2 separate regions of the Homo sapiens genome follow, and region 1 is linked to region 2. Evidence: fine-mapped expression QTL. Tissue or cell type: lung. Region 2 holds a variant in brackets; the other region holds the start of a gene. All regions are shown on one strand. Distances are from middle to middle.

What was found.
Region 1: it holds the start of ARAP2, and the variant in region 2 is fine-mapped to the expression of ARAP2 in lung (TOPMed, PIP above 0.99).

What each region holds. Positions count from the first base shown.
Region 1 is chr4:36,238,929-36,251,466 of GRCh38, forward strand. ARAP2 (ArfGAP with RhoGAP domain, ankyrin repeat and PH domain 2) reads right to left here and starts at 5,586. Exons shown (of 33, transcript NM_015230.4): 1 at 5,251-5,586. LOC439933 (a long non-coding RNA gene) reads left to right here and starts at 5,188. Exons shown (of 5, transcript NR_122079.1): 1 at 5,188-5,283; 2 at 6,244-6,382; 3 at 9,554-9,678. RefSeq lists a silencer at 5,382-5,961.
Region 2 is chr4:36,265,390-36,277,927 of GRCh38, forward strand. LOC439933 (a long non-coding RNA gene) reads left to right here. Exons shown (of 5, transcript NR_122079.1): 4 at 7,558-7,659; 5 at 7,846-8,826. Among named protein-coding and RNA genes, the nearest start is that of DTHD1, 10 kb to the right of the region's middle. The variant A/G (reference allele first, on the strand shown) is at 4,829.

The DNA of each region.
Region 1 (12,538 bases), 26 kb before region 2:
TTATGGTAAAAAACAAAAACAAAAACAAAAACAAATGTGCTTGACGAGAAAATAAAGTGTTAAGGCCAGGCATGGTGGCTCACGCCTGTAATCCCCATACACTTTGGGAGGCCAAGGTGGGTGGATCACCTGAGGTCAGGAGTTTGAGACCAGCCTGGCCAACATGGTGAAATCCCGTCTCTACTAAAAACACAAAAATTAGCAGGGCATGGTGGCACACACCTGTAATCCCAGCTACTTAGGAGGTTGAGACATGAGAATCGCTTGAACCCAGTGGGCGGAGGTTGCAGTGAGCCAATATCACGCCACTACAGGGACAGAGAAAGATGCTGTCTCAAAAAAAAAAAGAAGAGAAAGTATTAACACAAAAAAGATACCTGACTATGATCTTAAAGGTTTAACTTCAAATGTGGTGCAAAAGTAGATAAGGAGTGGAAGCAACCCAGATATCTATGAATGGATGAATGGATGAATGGATAAATAAAGTGTGGTATATACACAAAATGAAATACTAAGCAGCCTTAAAAAGGAATAAATACTGTCACATGCTACAATACAGATGAACCTTGAAGGTCATTATGCTAAGTGAAAAAACAGTCATAAAACAGACAAATACATGATTCCACTTACATAAGGTATCTACCGTAGTCAAATTCATAGAAAGTAGAACCATGATTACCAGAGAGGAGAAGAGAGGTAAGGAGTTGTTTAACAAGCATAGAGTTTCAGTTCTACCAACTGGAAATGGTCTGGAGATCTGTTTCACAGCATTGTAAATATACTTAGCGTTACTGAACTATACACTTTAAAATGATAAGACGGTAAATTTTATAGTATGTGTTATTTTTACCCAGTAAAAAAGGAGATCAGAAAACAGACTAGAAGATTTGGGCCAGTCTCTCAGCTCTTATTCAAATGGAACTCCCTGTACATACCTGGACTTTTTTTCTCTCCTTTGGGAGCCAATTCAAGTCTTACAAGTATGGTAACACCACATTCGTGAGGCTTCCCTGCCTATCCCATCCCTCCTCAATCCCTTATTAGTTCCACCCAGGCAGTAGTATAGATAGCACAATGCCCGAATTCCAGTCCAGGCTTCCCCACTTTTTAACTATGTAACTTAAGTTATTTAACTTCCCTGAAGCTTGTTTTTCTCATTTATAAAATGAGGGTAATATACCCTATATCGTATAGTATTTCTATTAGAATTAAACAAGTAAAAATTTAAGATATATAAGAATACCTGACATGAGTTACAACTGCACCATAAACGTTGGCTAATATTAATTCACCCATTGTATACAATATTGCCTTTAATCATATTCATACCACTATATTGCACTTGGTTTGAATGGAATTCTTCGGTCTGCATAGTAGTATTACATTCCTTTAAATTATCACTGTAAATCATTCTTCTAATAAACCCACAATGCACCTAACACAGCAGTTAACATAGTTTTATTAATGTAGTAACGTATACATGTAGTTAGAGTTGTAAGAATGATGATAATTTCACCTGAAGACTTAACACCTGGGACACAAAGCACAGTGATTTACCAGGGATTCCAGCTCTGCCATGTGCTACCTGTGTGGCCTTGGGAGAATTCCTCTCTTTTCCTGAGCCTCACTGTTGTCATTTGTAAGCAGGGAAAATAATAGTGCCTACCTCACGGGGATATTTTGAGGATGAAATGAGCGCATATGCATTAAAATCTTAGAACAGTGCCTGGTAAGCAACAAGCATTTAATTAGTGTCTTCTGGATGGAGAATAATGGAAATTTTAGCTGAAAATAGGTAGGCTCTGGGCAAAATCATTTCATAGCTTTGATCAAGGAGTAAGGATTGTCTAAGCTATGTTTTGATTATTTTACTTATAGCACAATCTGAAAAACACAATAAAAAAACCTAAAACTTAAAAACAATTTCCATCCAGTGAAGGCCACAAGTACAAATTCCTTTACTTAGTATAAGAACATATTAGTAGCATAGGAGGTACCTAGGTTTAGGTGTTCTGGATAATATCGCAATAGTTAAATGCTTGATAATCTCCTTAGCTTCTGTAAGTCTTTTCCTTTCAAGCTGTCCATCCAGATTTTAAGTTAATTCACTAAGATTTGAGAATTTTTAAAAATTCTAATGTAGAGAGATCCCTAAGGTAAAGCCATAATTCTTGGGATATCAGAGAATAATTTATTCTTCTAGAGTTTCTACAAAAGCAGAATTTTAAAACTTTTGTATAAGTGTATATACTCCACCATTTCTCTGAATGTAAGTCATATTTTTAGACAAACAACCAGATGTTTCAGAATAGCCTACTGTGTTTCCTCTCTTTGCATTTATAAATAGTACTCTGACCTCTTTTCCAACTGAGTTTGAGGGTTTATTCCTATTGGTTTAGCAATTGTCAAAGTTTCTTTTTCTTATAAAAAGAGGGCATTTCAGAAAACGTCTCCTACCTTACTGGACCATTTTTTAACATGTATTCATTCAATATATATTAAGCAACACTACTCGCTCCAAGATAAGAGAGGGAGATATTTGGTGTTCAAGATAACAGCCTCTACTGTCTCATTTGACAACAGTGCTAAGGGCTACAAAGAAAGTGAAGATACAGTCTTCCCTCCAAGAGTTTACAATCTAAAAGGGTAGATGAGACATGACTATAAGAAAAGGTAAATGGCACGTATATGAACAATCAGTTCATTATTACTCAGTAAGTGCCAATAAACAATACCAAAGACACCACAAAAAAACAACTTTTTGCAAAGAATTTGATATATTCCAAAAAAAACACTTAAATTGTAATGGTGAGAAAAATCCAATTTTATGACCCTAATTTCCACATGGTTTTATATTTTAGTATTGTTTTAAATACATGGAGAAGTGGCCCCATCATCCTTCATGAGTTCTCAGGAACTCTAAAAAATCTCAAATCTGCCACCTAAACCACTGCTTCAACCCAAATCAGGCCTCCTTTGTTTTCTCTGCAGCATGGGTAAATAAGTAAGCTTGTGCTGAACAGAAACTGAAACAAAATTTCACAGGACAACTTTCTAACTAGAAAAGATCACGTGAGGAGAATACCATTAAGTACTGCTTCATTTAAAGAAGAAACAAGTGAGCAAAATGGTTTAACTACCATTATATATTTAATCTGGCCAATACTTACAAGTAATAACTAAAATGATAAATTACAAGGTCCAGAACTTTGCAGAAAAGATTAAGACAGCGTCTCATAGCCTCTAATCTCACATCCACCATATGTGGTCAAAGCTAAGACATATTTCCCAGATTATTAAGAAGTTCTCTACCTAATTAATATTTCACCAAGAATTCCCAAAACTCTTACAATGTAGCATGTGCAAAGATTGTATCCAAGAAATGTATCAATAAATAAATGAGGACAGGTGGAAATGTATGCTAAAAGAAAACTATTAAAGCAATGACTATTATTTATACTTAGCATTTTTATAGTCACTTTCACCAAACTTTCTCACAGTTGCAGGGAGGTGGGTTAGAAAGTAACAAAACGAAACAACAACAACAACAAAAAACTTCTCATATATCATGAAGTCTATAACCCAGAATTCTACGTAGACTTTAAAACTTCATAGTTTCAATGCGTTAAAGTTCTTAAGAAAACTGTAATTCATTATAATCTGAGTTCTATACTTCTCCACAGTATCCAAGAATAGTTGGATCTGATATTATTGCATATCCATGAGCCTTACACTGCAAGGAGCTTGCAGTGATATTAGAAAAACAAGAATTTGTTTTTAAACGTACCATCAGCTTCTCCTTTTACAGACAAGCCACATAAAATCTGACAGGTTTACAGACGAAGGAAAAAATACAAACACAAGCACACACCCATATAAATACGTTTTAACAAGCTCTCTCACTTACCCTCTAGGTACATTTTAATTCAAATAAATCTTTGAGTACTGACAAATCTATATAAAACCCTCTTCGTGTTAGGAACCACCTTAAATGTGTATGTGTTAAATATGTTTAGAAAGAAGCCAGGAAGATATTTGCACTTAACCCTAGCCTAGTTCCATGACCCACTTTTTTTTCTTCTTTAAACGTTGTTGGACAAAAAATGTCATGAGTATTTTCTCTCAATATTTCTCCTGTAAGTGTATGGAAGTCATAAATAAGAGTTAAAAAAAAAAGAGTTTAAAGGTATTTCTCTTTTTTTCCTTAAAAAAAGTTAGCTTGCTTTTTATCTTCCAATTACTTACGGGCAAAGTTCCATGGGCCTGTGGGGGTGTAGAGTGCTTAAGTGCAGATAAATCAATACTGAGCTTGTAAGTACAATACTATTATGAGTAATAACAATGACATCCTATTAAATGTACTTTTAAAAATAGCTTATTTTCAATACACTTCTTGATTTTTTTTAAACCGAAGGCTGTATTCTACTGAACAGCCTACTTCAAGGACAAGCTTGCAAAAAAAAAAAAAAAAAAAAAAAGAATTTGCTATCAGGATACCTACTTACAACACCCTAAGATGTCATTATTCCACACAAATTAGCTTATTTTCTTGTGTTTTCCTCTAATTATCAAAGGCTATATAATCCACGAACCCTTTCCCCAAATCAAAATAACTCCAGATCACCTCAAGGTAGGAGGTGTTTAAGAAAACAAGCCAGAATTAGATAAAGTAAAACTTACTTTATTAAATAGGATGGACACCACTTCTCCCAAGAGAACTGTCTCCAAAAGTAAACAAGAAAGATCAATCTGGTAAACTCACATCATACAGGTTCCCGTGTAAGGTATCGGGTTCAGGCAGGTGGAAGCCAAATGATCGTAATTAAAGTTAATTAACAGGCCAGTCGTCTTAACGTGGTTAACAAGCAGGGTGCGGGGCAGCACAGACACCCGGGCAAATTCATGATCTCTACCGAGTAAATAACTTGGTGCCTGAAACTCACTACAGCTTCTTCTTATTTAAAGGTAGGGGAGAGGAATGGAGGGAGTGTCCAGCTGTCTATCCGGATCCTCACCCTCCCGGGTCAAATCCCAGAAGTGGAGTTCTTGGATCACTTACCGGCTTCTGGTTTCCTTTCAGACGCCCACACGCGGGAGCGAAATCCAAGGGGCGGACACCAGAGCCGAGCACTTTGCGCTGAGGAAATTTACCCGGTGAAGTGTCGAAAAGCCCCAGCCCCTCCAGACAGGGTCCTCCCACCCCCGCGTGGGCCATCCCGGCCCAGCCTTCCCGAGGCCCCGGGTACTCGCCTTGCGCTCGGGTCGCGGAGTTCGAAAAGCGAGGTGAGGCGGCGCTGGGAAGCTCAGCGCCGGCGTCTCTCCCAGCCTTGGGCGCTCGGTCCTCGCCCCTCTGCCGGAGGCGCCAGGCCTCCTCTTTCCCGGTCCCCGCCGGCTGTCCGCAGTCGCCTCTGCTGCCTGGCGGCGGCCGCGCGGGCGGCGCTGTTAGTGGGGCCGGCGTGTCGCGGCCGCCGCACCTGGAGGCGGGGAGCGCGGGCCGCGGACCCGCGCTCAGCTCCGGAAACGCCGAGCCCGGCGCCCGCGCCTTGCTCAGGTGCTCCCGCGCCTCGCCTCGGCCGCCGCTTCCTCTCCGCCCGCGGGGGCGGGGAGCAGGCGCCCCGCGCGGGGGAAGCCGGAGCTCAACGGCGGGGGCGGCCCAGCCGGCCTCCCTGGTTCCGCAGCATAGTTGGGTGACTGACTCAGACCGCCGCGACTTGGCCGCGCCTGGCACCCTCGCCACCTGGCGCACCTCGGCCCGGAGGCGTCAGACCCCGCTGGGGAAGCTGCGGGGGCGCGCCCTGGAGCCCAGAGCGACAGGGGCATTACCCACCTTCCCGGGACGGAGATGCCCAGGACCTTGTGTTGGCTCCTCCTGGCCAGTGGGTTTGTCTGTGCGCACTCATGGGGGGTTGAATGTCAAATGGGCGGAACCTCGCCACGACTGATTATTAGTATTACTCTTCCAAGTACTTAAAGTGTTAGCTCAGCGTTTCCCAAACTGAAGACTCATCTAGGGCACTATTTTCCCCAGGCTGCTTCTATGTAAATTTGCTCCTTCTTGCACCTGTGGCGGTTAGATCCCAGAGGGGCATTTCCCCTTTGAGTTGGACTCTGACAAAGGAGGCAGCGAAGGAAAATAGGGGATCCCAAAGAACCCTTGTGGACCTCCAAATATCTAAGCGTCCGTAAAATCCAGTTATTTGCAAGTGAGTTCACAGACCAACTACTTTTTTTTTTTTTTTTTAGACAGGGTCTCACTTTGTCACCCAGGCTGGAGTGTAGTGAGGCAATCTCAGCTCATTGCGCCTCCGCCTCTGGGTCCAAGCTATCCTCCCACGTCAGCCTCCCAGGTAGCTGGGATTACAGGCGCGCACCATCAGCCAAGGTAATTTTTTTTGTATTTTTGGTATAGACGGAGTTTCGCCTTGTTGCCCAGGCTGGTCTCAAACTCCTGACCTCAAGTGATCCACCTGCCTCGGCCTCCCAAAGTGCTGGGATTACAGGCGTGAGACACTGCCCCCTACCAGCTTTTTTTTTTTTTTTTATAAACATCTCCCACAGACTACCTGAAATTCTCTTCATTAAAAGGTGAAATGTATTTATCTTTCCCCTGTTCCTGTTGATGGAAGTGAAGCAATTAAGGAAAGCGCAGACCTTATGAAAATGAGATAATTGGTGAAGTGCGGAAAGAGAGAGGCTTCCCACAAGCCTGGGCCCTTAGGATTCTTCAGTCATCACCTTCACCCACACTAACTACCTGCCCAAAGCACCGTCTTTCCCTGGGGAGACTCTGAAGCAGCTCTGTCTTACTAGAGACACCAAATATCCAGTTCCTTTTGAACTTAATACCTCATAGCCGACCTCATTTCCACCAGGAAAGTTTTATTGACATTTTCCAAACCACGGGAACTTTTTCTCTGGATTCCTATAGCATTTATAGGAGGAATTTTATTTATGTGGCTCTTTTCTGGCTTCATTCTCTGTGTGTGTGTGTTTCTTTTGTTCTTTTTCCCTTTTCCCTCTCCAAATTCTCACATACTTCTCTCTTTTTTTTTATCTCTCTCTTTTTTGTTTTTGTTTTTGTTTTCGACTGAGCCCCGCTGTATCGCCCAGGCTGGAGCGTGGAGAGCAGTGGCGCGATCTCAGCTCACTGCAGCCTCCGCCTCCTGGGTTCAAGCCATTCTCCCGCCTCAGCCTCCTGAGTAGCTGGGATTACAGGCATGCACCACCACGCCTAGCTAATTTTCGTGTTTTTAGTAGAGGCAGGGTTTCACCATGTTGGCCAGGGTGGTCTGAAACTCATGGCCTCAAGTGATTCGCCTGCGTTGGCCTCCAGAAGTGCTGAGATTACAGGCGTGAGCCACCATGCCTGGCTCTATTTTTATCATTGTAAGCCATCTTCGGTCCTTCTCTAAACAAGGTGGGTTATAAATAAAAATTATTAGATCAGTTATCTTATGTGTGGGAGGTTCAATCATTGCTTTGTCCTCAAGTTACTTCGCTTGGTAGATTTTATAAACTAATTGAGAAATTGTCTCTCTCCCTCTTCGCAAAAATATCTTAGTTCTTTGATTATTATTCAGTCATTTATTCTTTAAAAATTATTAATCACTGTTTGGCATTTTGAAAATACAGTGTTTAGCAAATACAATGCAATCTCTGGATTTATGTTTTCTGAGGGGAAATAAAGGTAAATGCTACAAGGTACAACAATGACTTCATAATAGCCCTGGGAAATAAAGAAGAACAATGCTCACTTATTGAATGTATACATTAGTTATAAGATGTATTCTGGTTTAATGAATCTTAATATATGGAGGAAAATAAAAATGTCTGAGGAAATACGGCAAAAGCTATCTTTTATTAATTGATCGATAGTCACCAGACTCTAGTCAAATACCTAACATATATGCTGTGTATACACAACGTGTGTGAGTTAAAATTCTTTTTTCAATTTTATAAATATAGGTTTAATTGAAACTTAAAGAGGTTAAGTAGTAAATAGTGAATACATTGAATACATTTAGGCTATATTCTTAGGGTATAAATTTTTTATTTTGCAACCTTCACAGTGAGGTATTCAGAGAGCAAAGTACACAGGGAAATTGGCTTTACAAGGATTAAGGTATGGGCCAGGCACAGTGGCTCAGGCCTGTAATCTCAGCACTTTGGGAGGCAGAGGCGGGCAGATAACCTGAGGTCTGGAGTTCGAGACCAGCCTGGCCAACATGGCGAAACCCCATCTCTACTAAAAATACAAAAAAATTAGCTGGACATGGTGGTGCATGCCTGTAATCCCAGCTACTCAGGAGGCTGAGGCAGGAGAATCGCTTGAACCTGGGAGGTGGAGGTTGCAGTGAGCCGAGATTGCACCATTGCACTCCAGACTCCAGCCTGGACAATGAGACTGAAACTCCATCCCCTCCCCTCCAAAAAAAAAAAAAAAAAAGGTAAGAAAATATGTTTAATCTCAAGACCATTGGAACATATATTCCCAGTAATTTTCATCTAGGCTGAAATGATTCCACAATGACGAGCTCCTGCACATTTTTCCCAGATTTTTAGTAAAAAAGCAGGTAAAGATGTGTCTGTGCCTATCTATGTATTTACTATTGTGATCTCTTGTTGCTTTACTTGTCGAGGAGACAATTTGAGAGAGTGAAAATCTTCCTCCTCTCCTCCTCCTCCTCACTCTCTCCTCTCTCCCTCCTTTTCCTCCTTCTACTTTTTCTTACAACATGATGGCTAATACCCATTGAGCACTGTGTGCCAATTGCTGTTCCAGGCATTTTAATTACAAGAGCTCATTTAAGTATCTCAGCAGTTCCTTGGAGAGATGTTATCTCCTTTATAAGAAAACTTAAGAGACAGAAAAATTGAATGCTTTACACAAATCAAACAATTAGGACTGTACGGGAGGGAGAATTCCAACCCAGTCTTCTCCAGGATCTATTCTGCACTGTATTGTGTCTTGAAGAAAGTAGAAGGCTTGGAAAAGGCTGCATTCAAGATGGAACCAGTATAGGTTGCGGCATTTTTTTAAGCAAATTCATTAACTTACCTGAGCCTCAGTTTCCCCATATGTAAACTGAGAATAATAATACCTATGAGAATTTAATATGATTATATATCTACAGCACCTAAAAAAATAGTAACCCCTCAATGCATTTACTTTTAGTTTATCTTCTCAAATTATTCTTCAAGATTTGATTCAAATCCTACCTCCTTCTCAAGACTTTCAAAATCTCTGATACTCGGAAATATGTACACAACAGGATTTAAAATAATCTTTCCTTTTTTTTTTTCTAAAAGAAAATCCAGTATTGCTTTTGCCAAATATGAAAATTAGGTATATAGATAAAATAAGCAAATGTCTACTTATTTAATTCATCAATTTAGATGAATATCTATAGAAGTAAAATTATATTTTAAACTATACTGTTATTTCCACTTATATTTTATGAAATATTTAATTCACATTTTCAAATTTTAACATTCAACGACTTCATCACTATGGGCTGATTTTTTTCTTTTTTCCTTTTTTTTTTTTTTTGAGACATAGTCTCATCACTCTGTCACCCAGGCTGGAATGTAGTAGTGCAATCTCGGCTCTCTGCAACCTTCACCTCCTGGATTCAAGTGATTCTCCTGCCTCAGCCTCCTGAGTAGCTGGGATTACAGGTATGCACTGCCATGCCTGGCTAATTTTGTATTTTTAGTAGAGACGGGGTTTCTCCATGTTGACCAAGCTGGTCTCAAACCCCTGGCCTCAAGTGATTCGCCCACCTGGACCTCCCAAAGTGCTGGATTACAGGCATGAGCCACCGAACCTGGCCACTACAGGCATATTTCTGATATATATTTTTTGTTGCTTTTCTGTATACCATCTCAGCCCTATCCTTCAGCCCTGCTCCCAGGGATCCACTCCCCAGTAAAGAGTTCACATATAGGTTTTTGCCTCAGGCTGTATTTTCTGGGGGAGCTTTGGCTAAGACGTTTTTCATCACATCCTCTTATATTTATTTGTTCAGTAGCTTATTCTCTGCTTTAGATACAAGCTTTCTTTTTGGCCTGGAAAAAGGTAAATTCTTTTTTAAAGTTTTAATTGACAAAAATGTATATATTTATAATGGACAACATGTTTTGAATATGTTTACATTGTAGAATGGCTAAAACTAGATAGTTAACATATGCTCTACCTTGCATTCTTTTTTTTTTTTTTGTGGTAAGAACACTTAAAATCTACTTTCTCAGGGATTTTTAAGAATACAGTACATTGTTATTAACTTTAATCGCCATATTGTGTGCTAGATCTCTTGAACTTATTTCTTCTATCTAACCAAAATTTTGTATCCTTTCGCCAGTATCACCCCAACTCCCCCCTTTCCCAGCCCGCTAAGTACCATTCCACTCTCCTATAAATTCAGCTTTTTTAGATTACATGTGTAAGTGAGATAACACAATATTTGTCTTTCTCTGCCTTGTTTATTTCACTTAACATAATTCCCACTAGGTTCATTTACATTGTCACAAATGATATGATTTTCCTCTTTTTTAAGGCTGAATAGTATTCTGTTGTGTATACATGCCACATGTTTTTTAATCCATTGATTCACTGATAGTCACAAGTTGATTCCATATCTTAGATATTGTGACCCGTGCTGCAGTAAACATGGGAGTGCAGATACCTCTTCAACCTCAGGAGTTTAGTAGTTTGCCATTCAGATTAATGTACAATAATGGGAGGAAATATAGAAATAATAAATAAATTATGACACATATATTTTTGTACCAGGCATTGTGACACATTATTAGCTTTGTAAATTCTCTCAGCAGGGCTAGGAGGTAAGTAATATCAGTATCTCCCTTTTAGCCAATGATGAAACTGAAAGGTTATCCAAGAACTCACGAGTAGTAAATAAGGTAATCAGGCATTGAGATAATGTGAATTCAAAGTACATGCATTAAGTATTATGCTGTGATGCCTCAGAGAAAGCTTTTTAACATTTTGATAATAAGGACCTTTTGTTCTGAGACACTATTTATTTGGGGGAAATGATGTACCTTATATTTAGGAATTTATAATACTCTCTCCTGATTCTCCTACTGCCCTTTTTTTAAAAAATCTCTATTGAGTACTCTTGTCAGTCAGTCTTGCATTATGCATACTTGGAATACTTTATTTATTTATTTATTTATTTTTATTATTTTATTTTATTTTATTTTATTTTATTTTTTGAGACAGAGTTTCGCTCTTGTCGTCCAGGCTAGAGTATAATGGTGTGATCTCAGCTCACTGCAACCTCTGCCCCCCGGGTTCAAGTGATTCTCCTGCCTCAGCCTCCCCAGTAGTTGGGATTACAGGTGCCTGCCACCACGCCCAGCCAATTTTTGTATTTTTAGTAGAGATAGGGTTTCACCATGTAAGCCAGGCTGGTCTCAAACTCCTGACCTCAAGTGATTCTCCTGCCTCGACCTCCCAAAGTGTTAGGATTACAGGCGTGAGCCACTGTGCCCAGCCTGGAATATTTTTATTACTATTTGTATTCCCTGAAGTACCCAACCTAGAGCTTTAGGTAAATGTTTGTTTTTATCAAGTTTGAAATGTTTATATTCATTATGTTGACTGCTTTCAGTTCCTTGTTACAAGCTATGAGTTACTTTGAAAGTTTTATTCATTCTTTCTTGAGGCAAGAGAGCAGTTCAGTGAGATGGCACTGCAGGTTACCCTAGACAAAGGAGCAGTGAAAACTATTCAGTCAATTCAATCATTGACCAAAAATTGATGGTATTGTGGAAATAATTTATTTTTAAATATAAGGTTTTAAAAAATCATTTTAAAGTTTAAAGAAAAGTAAAAAGTTTTCCTATAAAATTAATATTTCAGAAACTCATTTAAGCACTATAGATGAGAGTGTTTCATTAATACTAATATGCATATTTTTACACTTCTTCTGAAAGAGGAATTCATCTTAAAATGAATTACTGTTGGCCAGGTGGCAGTCACAACATAATTGTCACTGCCTACACGCTCCTGAACTTGATCAAAAATGTTTTATATTGTCATCACTTCATTTGAGTTACTTGCATCAACAGTGCTGCATATGTTGAGTTCGTGACTCAAAACATCTTCAAAAAATTGCACTGGGTTTCCGCAGAAAGATAAGGAAACAGAGCAGTGTGATTTTGTGTGATATTTGATAAAAATCTATGTCTAAAAAATCTCAAAGAACGTTTTTGTAGATATACAGTGTATAAAAATTCTAAGTAATTATTTATTTTAATATTAAATTTTAAATTTGCATTTTAAATTCGTTGACATCCAGTAGTTTCTGCCACTGCTAACATAAAAATCTAGTTTTATTTTTCTATGGAAAAAATGTTTCCTAAGAAAAATCATTGCATGGGAGAAAATATTTGCAAATTATGCATCTGACAAAGGTCTCATGTCCAGAATCTGTAAAGAACTTAAGCAATTCAAGAAGCAAAAAACAAATAACACCATTAAAAAGTGGGCAAAGGACATGAGTAGACATTTCTC
Region 2 (12,538 bases):
CTATGTTGATCTTTTCTTAAAACCGCAGGGCTGCAGGACCCATTTAAAATGATTCCACCAAAATTAACTTCCTTCCTTGCTTCCTTCCTTCTTTCCTTTATTCCTTCCTTTCCTGTTTTTCTTTTTTAACCAAGGTCAGACCAAGCCTTTCCCAGCTCCCACCCCTTTTCTCTCTCTGGCAGTTCCCTTAATAAATTTCTTACATGTTTAATCTGGTACAGCTATTTGCTTCTTGGATGACATGGATGAACACAACTGCGAAAGAAAAATGTTAGCACACTAAGAAAATAAGGTCTAGAACCAAAGAGGGAAAAAAAGGAAAGTTAATAAACAAATAATTAATTTAGAAAAATTGACCTCTATAATTTGATTAGACCAACAAAACTGCCTGGGTGCTAATTCTAGACCTTTTTTTTCACCACATAGAGTTTCAAGATAAGAGTTTCTTTATATAGAGTTTACACTCATAGTTCACATACCCTTCCTTCCCTAACAGAAGCCAGGCTATGTCTGGAAAGTGTACTTAGAATGGGAAAATCCAGTTGTCCTGAGACCACACGGATGAACATCCATGGAAATTTACCTGTTCCATGCCTATGTTCTCACTCACTTCCACTAGTCTTTTGTCTAGAGTGAAGTTATCTCTGAAAGAGTATCTGAGAAAATATAGCAAGTTTTCCAAGTTCCAGGAAATCCGAGTAGGTGAAGATACGCTTCACCTCACTGTATATAATGCAACATTGAATGGACTGACACTTATTCTGGCCCAAAGCATAGTTGATCTAATATTTGAATAAGACTATAAAGGATAAGCTCATCTTCCTTTCTTCCATTGCTTTATCTTCTATTTCAGCTTCCATTGAGATGATCAAGAATATGCTAAGTTAGTACTCTATTGCCTAAAAGAAAATTAGTTCCCAGGAAGACAGTTTAATTTTCAAATGCTTTCACTGGATTCAATATAAGAACCAGAAAGAAATATTGATGCTTTTTCAAAGCCTCTTTTGGAGACCTTGTTCATTATATTAATAATCCTTTACATAAAGATCTAGATGCTAAAATCATCTGTAATTCAGTACCTGATACCTCCCGGATGGCTAGGTTGATCACTCCTTAAAACTGCAGGGTCCATCTAAAATGCTCCCATTCAAATTTCCTTCCTTCATTCCTCCCTCCCTCCCTCCTTCCCTCCCTCCCTTCCTTCCTTCCTTCCCTTTCCTTCATTTCTTCCTTCCCTCTTTTTATTCTTCAACCAAGTTCAAACCAAGCCTTTCCCAGCTACCTCCCCTTTTCTCTCCCTGGCAGAAATGTTTTATACCTCCTTTCATCTAAAAATGGGACTAAGACTTTATTCTGCCATTGCCTTGATGGCCAGGAAACTCAGTGTGAAGGTCAATGCTTAAGAATGATGTTTCCACTTTCCTAGTAATTCTTTTTCTCTTTTCCCTGTATAATTTTTTATTTGTAAAACTTTATTAGTAGTACTTATATTGTTTGTGAGTTTATTTTAGGTAAGCTTAAATAGTTGGATTTTTTAGAGGGGATGGAAATAAGTAGGCTATAAAATTTTAAATAAATTATACATGTACGTATATATCAATGTTTACTATGCCCAAACCATGATTAAAAATCACTGATGAAGTTTTAGAAATAAACAGGCCAGGTGGTGTGGCTCAAGAATGTAATCTCAGGATTTTAAGAGGCTGAGGCGGGTAGATCACTTGAGCCTAGGAATTTGAGGCAGCAGTGAAGTATGATTGTGTCACTGCACTCCAGCCAGGGCAACAAAGCAAGACCCTCATCTCTAAAAAAAAGAACAAAAAAAGAAAGAATACTGAAGGGAGTTGTGAAAAATTTAATAGTTTCAATTCAAGCAAGCATGCGAATTTACATCTCATGCTTTTTATTTAAAGGAATGGATCTTTTTGTTTAACCTGTGTCAGGTAGCAGCACTGGAACACGAAGCTGATTGGTTACAGATCTGGTTCTGTAGTATCATGAGAGCCAGCTAGCTCTTCCCTCGGTATCTCCATTCATAAAGTATGAGGGTTGGACTAGGAAGACCTAAGGGATCATTTTTAGCTCTGGAATTGTATGATTTCTTCTGAATTTAAACTTATTCTATTTCAATATTTAAACATCTAATTATCATAGGAGAACACATTCAAGAATGACATTAAGAGGTGACTATGCAAGAGGAAGTTTCCTAACTCTTTTCTCTTTACAAAGACATGCTGAGGACATGGACTGTAATGAAGCATTTCCTTTCAAATTAGATTTGAATGTTACATCAGATAATGAAGCTTTTGAAGTTCTAAGAACTCAAAATTCCATTCAGTGGTCTGACGTCATGAAAATGGATCCTTAACCAGTCAAAAGAGCTAATTCATTTTGGGAGAAAAAATGAAACAAAAGCATCTACAATTTCTTAGTCATTATAGTAGCTCTGTGAAACTATTATATAACCAGCTTAAAAACATACTGTTTTGGTATATATTGTGCAAAAAAGATTCTAAGCTTGACAACAACAAAGAATAGACTCAGTAACTATTTAGAAATACAGCAATTTGCTTTGTTTCAAGCATAGCTGTTACCAATTACTTCATTCTAGCAGTCATGATAGAGCAATACCATCTGAAGGACCTTGGCATTAACTTTGTTGTGAAATATCAGATAGTCTTTGCATGCTGCAACAGGTTGAGTATTTATTTACCTGTAGCATTAATTTGATCTCCAAACAAAATTATATGATATGGGCAGATTACATAGCAATAGAAATGTGTTTATTTAAGTCCAACTAACATAGTTAGCTAGCTAGCTGTGCCATGTAGGCTAACCTACACAAACATGACGTAAGATACATACTTTAATTTCAGCTGCCTGAGAAATGAAACTTTTCTTCTCAGTGCCTAGAAGAGTAGGCACACAAATGTGAAAGCACATAGTAGATGCTTAGCAAACATCTGGTAAATAAACATGCTTTTATGTTATCTTGATAAGCTTAGTGTCTAAAGTGGGAGTTATTAGCATTCACCAAAATGGATGAATTTTATTTCTCCATAAGACATGGAATTTATGATAGAATGTGTGTATAACTCTATATGTATACTTAGATGCCACTGATATTTGTTATATTTCTGGTGTTTTGTTTAGCTGTTTATGGTGGTTGCTCTTGTTTTCTTCAAAAATATTGAAATAGAATTGTCTACTTGTGAGAAGTCCTTTCAGCCTGATCTTATGAAGTGCTATAAGCTATATTTTACCTCAGTATTGAGGCTCTCCAAAAAATGTATCTTTCAAAACCTCAAAGGAAACTGTATCTTGTGTAGTTAATGCAATCAGCCACAGCATAAAAGACTTTTCTGAAGACTTGTAAGGGATCCAAACTTCCAATCTCAAGATTCGGCTGAAAGGGGCTAGAAGTAATTATCTGATAATATATACTACTATGTTTTCTCCTTTTTGTATCCAAGAAAGTCATTTGAGAGTAAACATAGGGGAAAAGTTGCATTAGCAAGTAATATACAGCAGAGGTAAAAATCCCAGGAACACCTAGAGAAGGAGCAGGCAGGAGTAAAACTGTTTCTTTCATGGCTTACACATTGTAGGCCAGAAAAAAAAAAAAAAAAACAAAAAAAAAAACACTGTACATTTTCATTCAAACTCACATCCACAAAGTCTTCTCTGGATCAACCAAATTAAACTAAATCCACCAGCATGAGAAATTCAAGGACTGAGCAGAAGAATGTCTCGTCATTAATAATAAATTGGTATATAACCCAGAAGACCCTTCTTTCTTTCTTTTAAGTTCAAGATATGGCTGCTTCCGAATTCTTGTCCCCATGGAAACAAGATGTGCTTGGTATAACAAGATGACAGAGGGAAACAGCTTCACAGCTGTGGCTACATCACTGGGGCTGGTTTCACTGTGAAGTTCTTCTGACTGCTACACTATTGGTTCATCTGTGATTCCCCCGTTCTTTCCACAAATCGAGGTCTATGCAACAGTTTGAAGTTGCATTTGAGGATGTCTCAAGTTTTTGATATTTGACATCTGTTGGTTGTGTTTCTCTCTATTGCTTTCTTGTCTATTTCATGCATTCTTTAAAAATCTTGTTTAATACATTGCTAATTTGCTCTTTTGAATGTACATTTTTAGTTTTCTTTGATCTTTATCAAACGCAAGTTTAGTCACTCCAGCTAGATGTTTAAGATCCACAGAGAGAAAAACTATTTAAGCCACCTCCAAGATTAGAACAATGCTTAGTATACAATAAACACAATCTATATTGGCTGATGGACAAATGACTCACTTTAGGGCTCTTATTCTCTGTAATATGTAGTTATACAGGTCAGCAGTCCTCATTTTTAGCCAGCAGAGATTTGGTAATACATTTGGTTCCCTACAGTGGATGACTGTTGATGATCTTGACTTGCTGTTTGCGCTATTCATGGCTCACAGGTGATGTTAATTAAAGTCGTCCCTAAATGGGCTGTAACATCAATTACTGGCCCAAATCTCACAGCTAAACTGCAGGTTGGGCATCACCACTATCACTTGGAAACAGTTAACATTGTATGGAGGCTGACACTCTACACACATAGCTACATGGCGATGTGCAAACTTTCTCAAGAATTCACTTGTCTATTCTATTTTGCTTCTTTGTTTGTGTATCTCAGAAAAGGGCATTGCCACAGCTGCTGGATTACGTAATGGTTCAAAATAACAGTCTTCAAGGTCATTCAAACACATGGCTATCTCTTTGGACCAGAATAAGAATTCCAACTTTCATTAAAAAGTCATCATAACACCCTGATTTACTCATAA[A/G]TAGTCCTCGTATGAATTACCTCTTCTCAAAAAGCATACTGAAGATATTTTCTTGCGTTTGTTGTTGTTGTTTGTTTAATTTATGGCATGTCCCATGCTATCTTTGAAGTACTCCACTTTCTGGGTCCTTAAGAATGTTGAGATTATTCTCCAGGTATTAAGTTTAGATCTTATTGCTGAAATGAGACCAAGTGAAGTACAGTAAAATATTTGAAAGTCTGTTTTTTAAAAAAAAATCTAGAGTTTTTTAATAAGACTATTTTGAATATGTTAACAATCCATATCTTAAAATCTTACAGCTTATTTCATAAAATACAATCCAAGGGCTCCTTGTACTTCCAGATATTGAATTAGTAATCATCAGTTTTTTAGAAATTACTCCTTTTTACTATTCTAAGCTATCTTTAACATTTTGAAAATTTAATGAATGAAATTGTGATTTTTAAAAGAACCCAAACAGAGGCACCAGTTTCTCTCATGAGTGAATATATTATTACTCTTGTACATTTGAAATAAGAGAAGTCCTCTAGTACTGAACATTCTGGCATATATTTCCTAGTACCATCGGTCCTTCTTAGGACATAATTGAGACACTGAGGAATTAAGTCCCTCAAGACACAAGGAAGCCACTTCCCACCAGAGGTTCTGACTTTATTGTACTATCCTGTATAATCACATGAATTCATATGGCACCATTACTGAAGTATAATGAGATCATTAACTCCTAAGCACCCAGTTTATTCTAGACTTTCAAAAATACAGACTGATTTAAGATTAAGAAGCAATTGCAACTATGTATTTGCAACAAAAGCAGTTATGAGAAGAGAGATGGGGAAAACAAATTGTATTATACTATTTAAGCTCGAATTTCCTTACTCTCACCCCCACCTGGACAAAATGGCTCTTATAACATCCACTGTCTATTAAAGTTTTTGCTTTTAAAACAAAATTAATATTCCTAAGAAACACAAATATAAAAGGTGATGTCTTTTTTTTTCCATTTCAAATATGGATCTGATTTTAAGACCTTATTTTCAAATGGCTCTCTCAGTGCTTTTGTAGGTAAGAGCCAAGAATTAAGAACAACCCTCATCTTGTGTGTTAGATAATACCACAGAGAGTTTCTCTATCCTCAGCTTTAACTCCTGTCTACTGACTAGACCTATTTAAGTTACCTAACCTGTTTAATGAGCTCCAAAAATAAATGTATATTATAGAGAAAACCAAAGGACACCCACTATTTACAGAGAAATGACACGGAGAGGGCATTTCTTCAATATGTGACCTAAATAACCCAAATCAGATTTAATTCAATATGGGAATCTGGGATTACATCGGAGCTGTTATCTGGGTCTGCCAGTAACTGCAATAACATCTTTAAACAGTAGCACAATCTTGGATAGACTCTGTCTAACAAAAATGACTTCTCCACTAGGATAGAAATTAATTCACCATTGCTCTCATTTTTATCACAAGGAGGTAAAATAAATTTTTAAAAATCAAATGCAGCTTCCTTGGAATGTTACAGCTAATTCTGAATTAAGAAATGAACTAGTTAGTAGTTATGTATTTCTGACAATGCTGAAAACAACATGCTTCTAATGATATCATTTCACATACAGACCTAACACATAGGCTGAGATGCACCTGGAAAGGCATCCCATAGAAGCTTCAGATTTTATTATTACAGGTTCATTCTTTAAAAATTCAAATAGGGCCTGGCACGGTGGCTCTTGGCATTTTGGGATGCCGAGGTGGGTGGATAATTTGAGTCCAGGAGTTTGAGACTGGCCTGGCCAACATGGCGAAACCCCCTTTTTACTAAAATTACAAAATTAGCCATGGGTGGTGTTGTGTCCCTGTAGTCCCAGCTACTCTGGTGGCTGAGGCATGAGAATCGCTTGAACCCCAGAAGAAGAGGTTGCAGTGAGCCAAGATTGTGCCACTGCACTCCAACCTGGGTGACACAGCGAGACTGTGTCAAAAAAAAAAATCAAATAATGCTGCTGAGGAGAATCAACACCTGCCAAGACTCTAATGCAAGTGGGTTTATTTGGGTGATTTTTGACAGATGACACAAGGCAGCAAGAGATAAAGGGTAACTTGGAAGATACGCTGAAAGGGGTAGATGGATGGGAAACATGGCCAGAAAGGAGATGTCGGTGATAATTTCATAATAAACATGCTAGCCTAGGGCCGGCCATGGCTGTTCCTCCCACCTATTGCCACTTGCTGAGGTTCTAGAATGTCCCTGAACCTGGTGATAAGAACAGTGATGAGGGGAAGTAAAGTAAAAAAGAAGATTGATAACATTTTCTCTTCTGATATTGGACATGGTTAATGCCTATAGTGGATATAAATAATGTAAGATAGTTGATAGCATAAGGTCAAATGTGTCAAGATAGCAACAGTCTAAGAGGGGAAATAGTTATACTCCTAAATAGCTTAATGTTGTCCATTTATAATATATATATATTCATTTTTCTGAGAAACAAATATTCTTGGAGGCTCATTGTATACAATGTCATCCTTTTAGTAATGATGAACACTATGGGGTCCTGAGGTATTCTCAGCTCATAGAAATTTAGCTGGAAGAGCTCAAATATTTCTAAAAAGCAACAAATTAGGCATTCTTTTGCATCATTTCCCTACTTCAAGATAGAGTTTTCTTGATGTTGAGGGTTGAGTTTATGCTGAATAATTTGATTCTTGCAAATTTATTTTTACAGTGCGAGGGATATTTCTGCTGACAATTCAACATTCAAAGGGATGAGTGTATGACGTCTCTAAGAGATGTCATGGAGTGCATGTAGAAGGGACTTTTTATGGAGGTAAGATGTAGAATAGGACAGTCATGTTTAATTGATGAATTTTGTTATGATTGTCCAGAAGTAAAACAGAGAACCTGGAAGTGATTTGGGAGGAATATGTTAGTGTCAACACATATGAGACCTTTTCTTTGTCTTCTTTTTAAAAAACTCTTTTTCATTCATGTGTTTCCTCTTTGTCTTTTTCAGAACTACTTCTCAAATCACTATTCACATCCTGGTAGAAGTCAAGCAATGAAGATGGCACAGAAACACATCCCAAATACTATGATACCATAAAGTATACTGTAGCAATGCATTGGCACACCCTCATTTGAACATTTGTCTCAGAAGATTTTGACAGAAGATAAAATTGTCTGGTTTTTATTTCATTGGTTTCATGAAAATTTATTTCACTGGTTTCATGTCACAGGCCCATGACTGTATAAAGAGTCATAATCTTTACAAACACAACAATGACTCACAGCGACATGTTGCAAAGCTGTAATCGAAAACACTGATGTTGATTTCAGAGGCCATTAATGGTGTTAAGAAGGCGCTTTTGTTAACCAAATAATTGAATACTCGTAATTACTTTTCAGTTCTAGTTCAGTTCTTGACACCAAAACAAGCCATTTTCTTTACATAGTGAATGCAGAACTTGCCAGTAAGAACTTTCATACTAAACTTCTATGTAAAACAAAACATGTCAAAATCAGTAACTACTTTAATGGAATGGTAAAGAATTTACTTAAACACAAAGGAATGAAAATATCTCTGCAAATATGTCTATTGACTTTTCAAATTTGGTGACTTCTTTCGAATTAATTCCCTTACGTCTGTTCCTCATCCACATAAAAATGACAAAAATGAAAGATAATTTTCCAGCCTATAATTAAATTTCTCCATTGTTGGTATATGTTTTTTCAAATACATTTTTCAGTTTTCATAATTCATATGAGAATTATTAAAAGGGAGTTAGTTGCCTTTAGGACCTTATTTGGAGCCTAATTCTTAAAAATTGTGTAAAAATAATTGTGACTTTTAAGAGACAATTGGAAATTTGAACCTGACCACATTTTTGTGATATTAAGGAATTTTATTAATTATTTTCTAGGTGGGGGAATGATATGATGATATTCTTAAAATAATGTGTGGATTGTTTATTACATTTCAACATTTTCTTAATCATCAAACATTTGTTGACCTTCTGCTGTATCTAGAGCTCTGTGATCGGGATGAAGTATGAGATATTAAGCCATTACCAGGTGGTAGTTACTCTACCTCTGTTTGAAGTTCATGCCCAGCCCATTTGTTGCTTTAAATTTGAGTTCATTCTTGAGCATGTGCCACCAAATTCCAAGCATTTTCAAATGGTGAATTACTTCTTACAAACTCAACGGAGTGTATGTTAGCCGATCTGAAGTAACCCACTTGAAGTGATGCGCTGTGTCAACCTTAATATCACCATCAAATGATCCCTAGGGAATGCAACATTTGGCTTATTTCATTTTTAACATGTGAATTTAGTTTATATCAAAGTAATATAATACACATAGTTTAAAAAAATCATATAGTATGACAACAACTTGAAAGAAAAGCAACAGATCCTTGCAGGTTGCTCTTCTTCCTCCCCAAGTACCTGAGCATCTGTCATTGTCCTCCAGCATAAGGCCGTCAGGAGCACACCTATAATTGAATAAGCAGGACTCACTACCCATTTCAGTGAGGGAAAACTCACACCACAGAGAATCCTGGGGTGTCTCAGGTGAAGGATGTTAAAAGGGACTTATAACAGGATTTGGGCTTTGGTTGGGTGACTCGACGGAAGTTTCCCGCTCTGAATTGGATGCTCTCTAAAAGTGGTTATAATCTGTGATTGGGTATCTCGATAAGTCTTATCCTTAGAGAGGGCAGACTAGAGTAATGCTAAAGATGCAATTGTTAAGAAGCAGTCCTCATTCGTATTAGCTGAGAGAGGGGAATGTTTCGTATTTTGTGGCTTGAACAATGCTCATGTGTTTAGACATGATTGTAGAGTGATTTTCAATTTGTTTTGATCCATCATAGTGCTGATGTCATGTTAATTTTTTTTTTAATGTTCAACAGAATACTAACACCTAGCTGTGAGTACCAGGACAGCTGGTAGCAACCCCAAGGCTTTGCTGGTAGTGCCAGGCTAGCTCCTGGAAGTCAGAAGTTGCTTTGTTCTTTCCCATGTCTTTTCCCAGAGGCAATCACATTAAACCTTTTAGAAGTTTCTTCTGGCACTTACCTCCAGATTCCTAATAGTTTTTCTTTGTTTTTAAATGTTTGATTTATTTTTAAATATTTGACTTCCTGCTATAGAAATAAGACTTTTTGCTCTCTTGTATCCACCCTGCTATACACATTTGCTATGTACATACCTCCTATACTCGTCCTAATAATACACATGTATCAGAATTTTTATTTTATTTTTATTTATTTTTTTTTTGAGACAGAGTCTCACTCTGTCGCCCAGGCTGGATGGAGTGCAGTGGCGCGACCTCGGCTCACTGCAATCTCTGCCTCCTGGGTTCACACCATTCTCCTGCCTCAGCCTCCCAAGTAGCTGGGACTACAGGTGCTCACCACCACACCCGGCTAAGTTTTTGTGTTTTTAGTAGAGGCAGGGTTTCACCGTGTTAGCCAGGACGGTCTCGATCTCCTGACCTCGTGATCCGCCCGCCTCAGCCTCCCAAAGTGCTGGGATTACAGGCGTGAGCCACCGCGCCCAGCCCACAATTTTTATTTTAAAGTAATTATAAACGTCTTTATTACCGTGGCTGTATAAATATTATTCATAACAGAACTATGCAATACACTATAATTATATATCCTTTTCTTTACAATTTAGTTTTTCCCAGTTTTAATAATTGTCTTTTGTTTCTGTTGCTAAATTATCAACAATTCTTTTCCTCAATTCTCTAATAGAATTGTAAAACTTCTCTTAAAATGTTTAAAACATCAGCTAATTCATGAGTTCCATTTTTTCTGCTTGCAGACAGACTTCTGAAACACTCAGGTGACTGCTGCAGTCTGGAATGGGGGCTTTCTAGGGCCACAGCATTGCTGTCACCCTGGGACTTCATCTAAAGCATTTGATTTAGCTCTCTCTCTTTTGCTGGATTTTCCATTTCCTGACTCGTATGTCTGCGTTTTTCTTGTGTCATTCTGTTTCTTGTGATAGAGTTCATCTGTGAGTAGCTTCCCAAAAATGGGTACACAGGAGATAAGTAGTTTGACATTTGCATACTCGAAATGCCCTTTCTTTCTCGGCACACCTGAATGATGCTTTGGCATTTGGCATTTGGCAACAGAATCCTGGATTGGAAAGAGGCTTCCCTCAGAATATTGAAATCACAACTCATTATTTGCTAGGTCTTAGTGTTGCTGTTGAGAAGTTCAATGCCTTTTGATTTAAATGTGACAGTTTTTTCCCTCTTTGGAGGCTACTGGAATGTTGATCCTTGGTGTGAATTTGATATGACTGGTTATGATTATTTTTTGTATATACTGTTCTGGGCTCTTTCTGTCTAGAATATCATATACTTTAATTCTGAGAAATATTTCGATATTATTTCTTTGATAATTTCATTCATTCTACTTTCTCTTTCCAGAACTCATATTAGTGGGACCACTTGGATTTAACCTTTAATTTTCTTAACCTCCATTTTACCCCTATTGTCCATCTCTTTGTCTTTTTGTTTGATGTTTTTGGGAATTTACTCAACCGCTTTTTCTTTCCCATATTAAGAAAATTCTATTATCATAATTTAATTTCTGTGAGTCCTTTCTCATTGCCAGAATGCTCCCCTTTTAAAGAAAATATTTTCGGCCTGGCTTGGTGGCTCACGCCTGTAATCCCAGCACTTTGGGAGGCCGAGGCAGGCTGATCACGAGGTCAGGAGTTCAAGACCATCCTGGCTAACACAGTGAAACCCCGTCTCTACTAAAAATACAAAAAATTAGCCGGGCGTGGTGGCAGGCGCCTGTAGTCCCAGCTACTCAGGAGGCTGAGGCAGGAGAATGGCATGAACCTGGGAGACGGAGGTTGCAGTGAGCTGAGATTGCAACACTGCTCTCCAGCCTGGGCAACAGAGTGAGACTCTGTCTCAAAAAAAAAAAAAGAAAATATTTTCTTGTCTTGTGAGTGCATTATTTCTTCTTATCCTAGACTCTGAACATGCTAATTATAGATTGATTTGATATTTTCCTCTTCCCTGTGTTTGTTCTCTTGTTTTTTTTCCCAAGTTCTTTATTTTTGTTTGTTTACTTTAGTCTCTAGCTTTATATTAGAGGCTTTTTCAAATGCCTGACCTCGTTGGTTGTTATTCCACTTAAAGTGAGGCATGAAGAGCCTAGTTTGGAAGCTTTATATGATGCAGAGCTTCACTGTGGATGATCTGGCGGGGGCAGACCAGGCTTGTGGGGTTGGAAATAGGGAGAGGGACACTGAAAGTTTCACTATCAGTAGGTTTTTCTCATGGAGTGTTCAGTTACTCCATGGAGGAAACTTTCCATTTTCTGCCTGGAAGGTTATGCTTCCCAGCTCGTGTTCTTGGAGTTGAGCAGAAGAATAGAGCAGCACCTCATAATAGAATTTCACTTAACCCTCATGGTCAGCATAGCACCCCCTCCAGTTCTCTGCTCTGCTGAGTGTTGCTGCCACGATTTATTCATAGAGAAAGTCTCTAGCTTCTGATGTGTGGGAGAGAGATTGTTGCCTGGTTCTTTGGGGCAGAAGCGAGGTATCTGGGAATCTACCTGCTCTCCAAACAGAGTTTCAGCAAAAACACCTGTTTACAGCCCTAAGTTCATCTTTACTTTCAGAGGTCCTAACTTTCTCTTATTCCGGGAACTTCTGAGATTCTGTGACAAG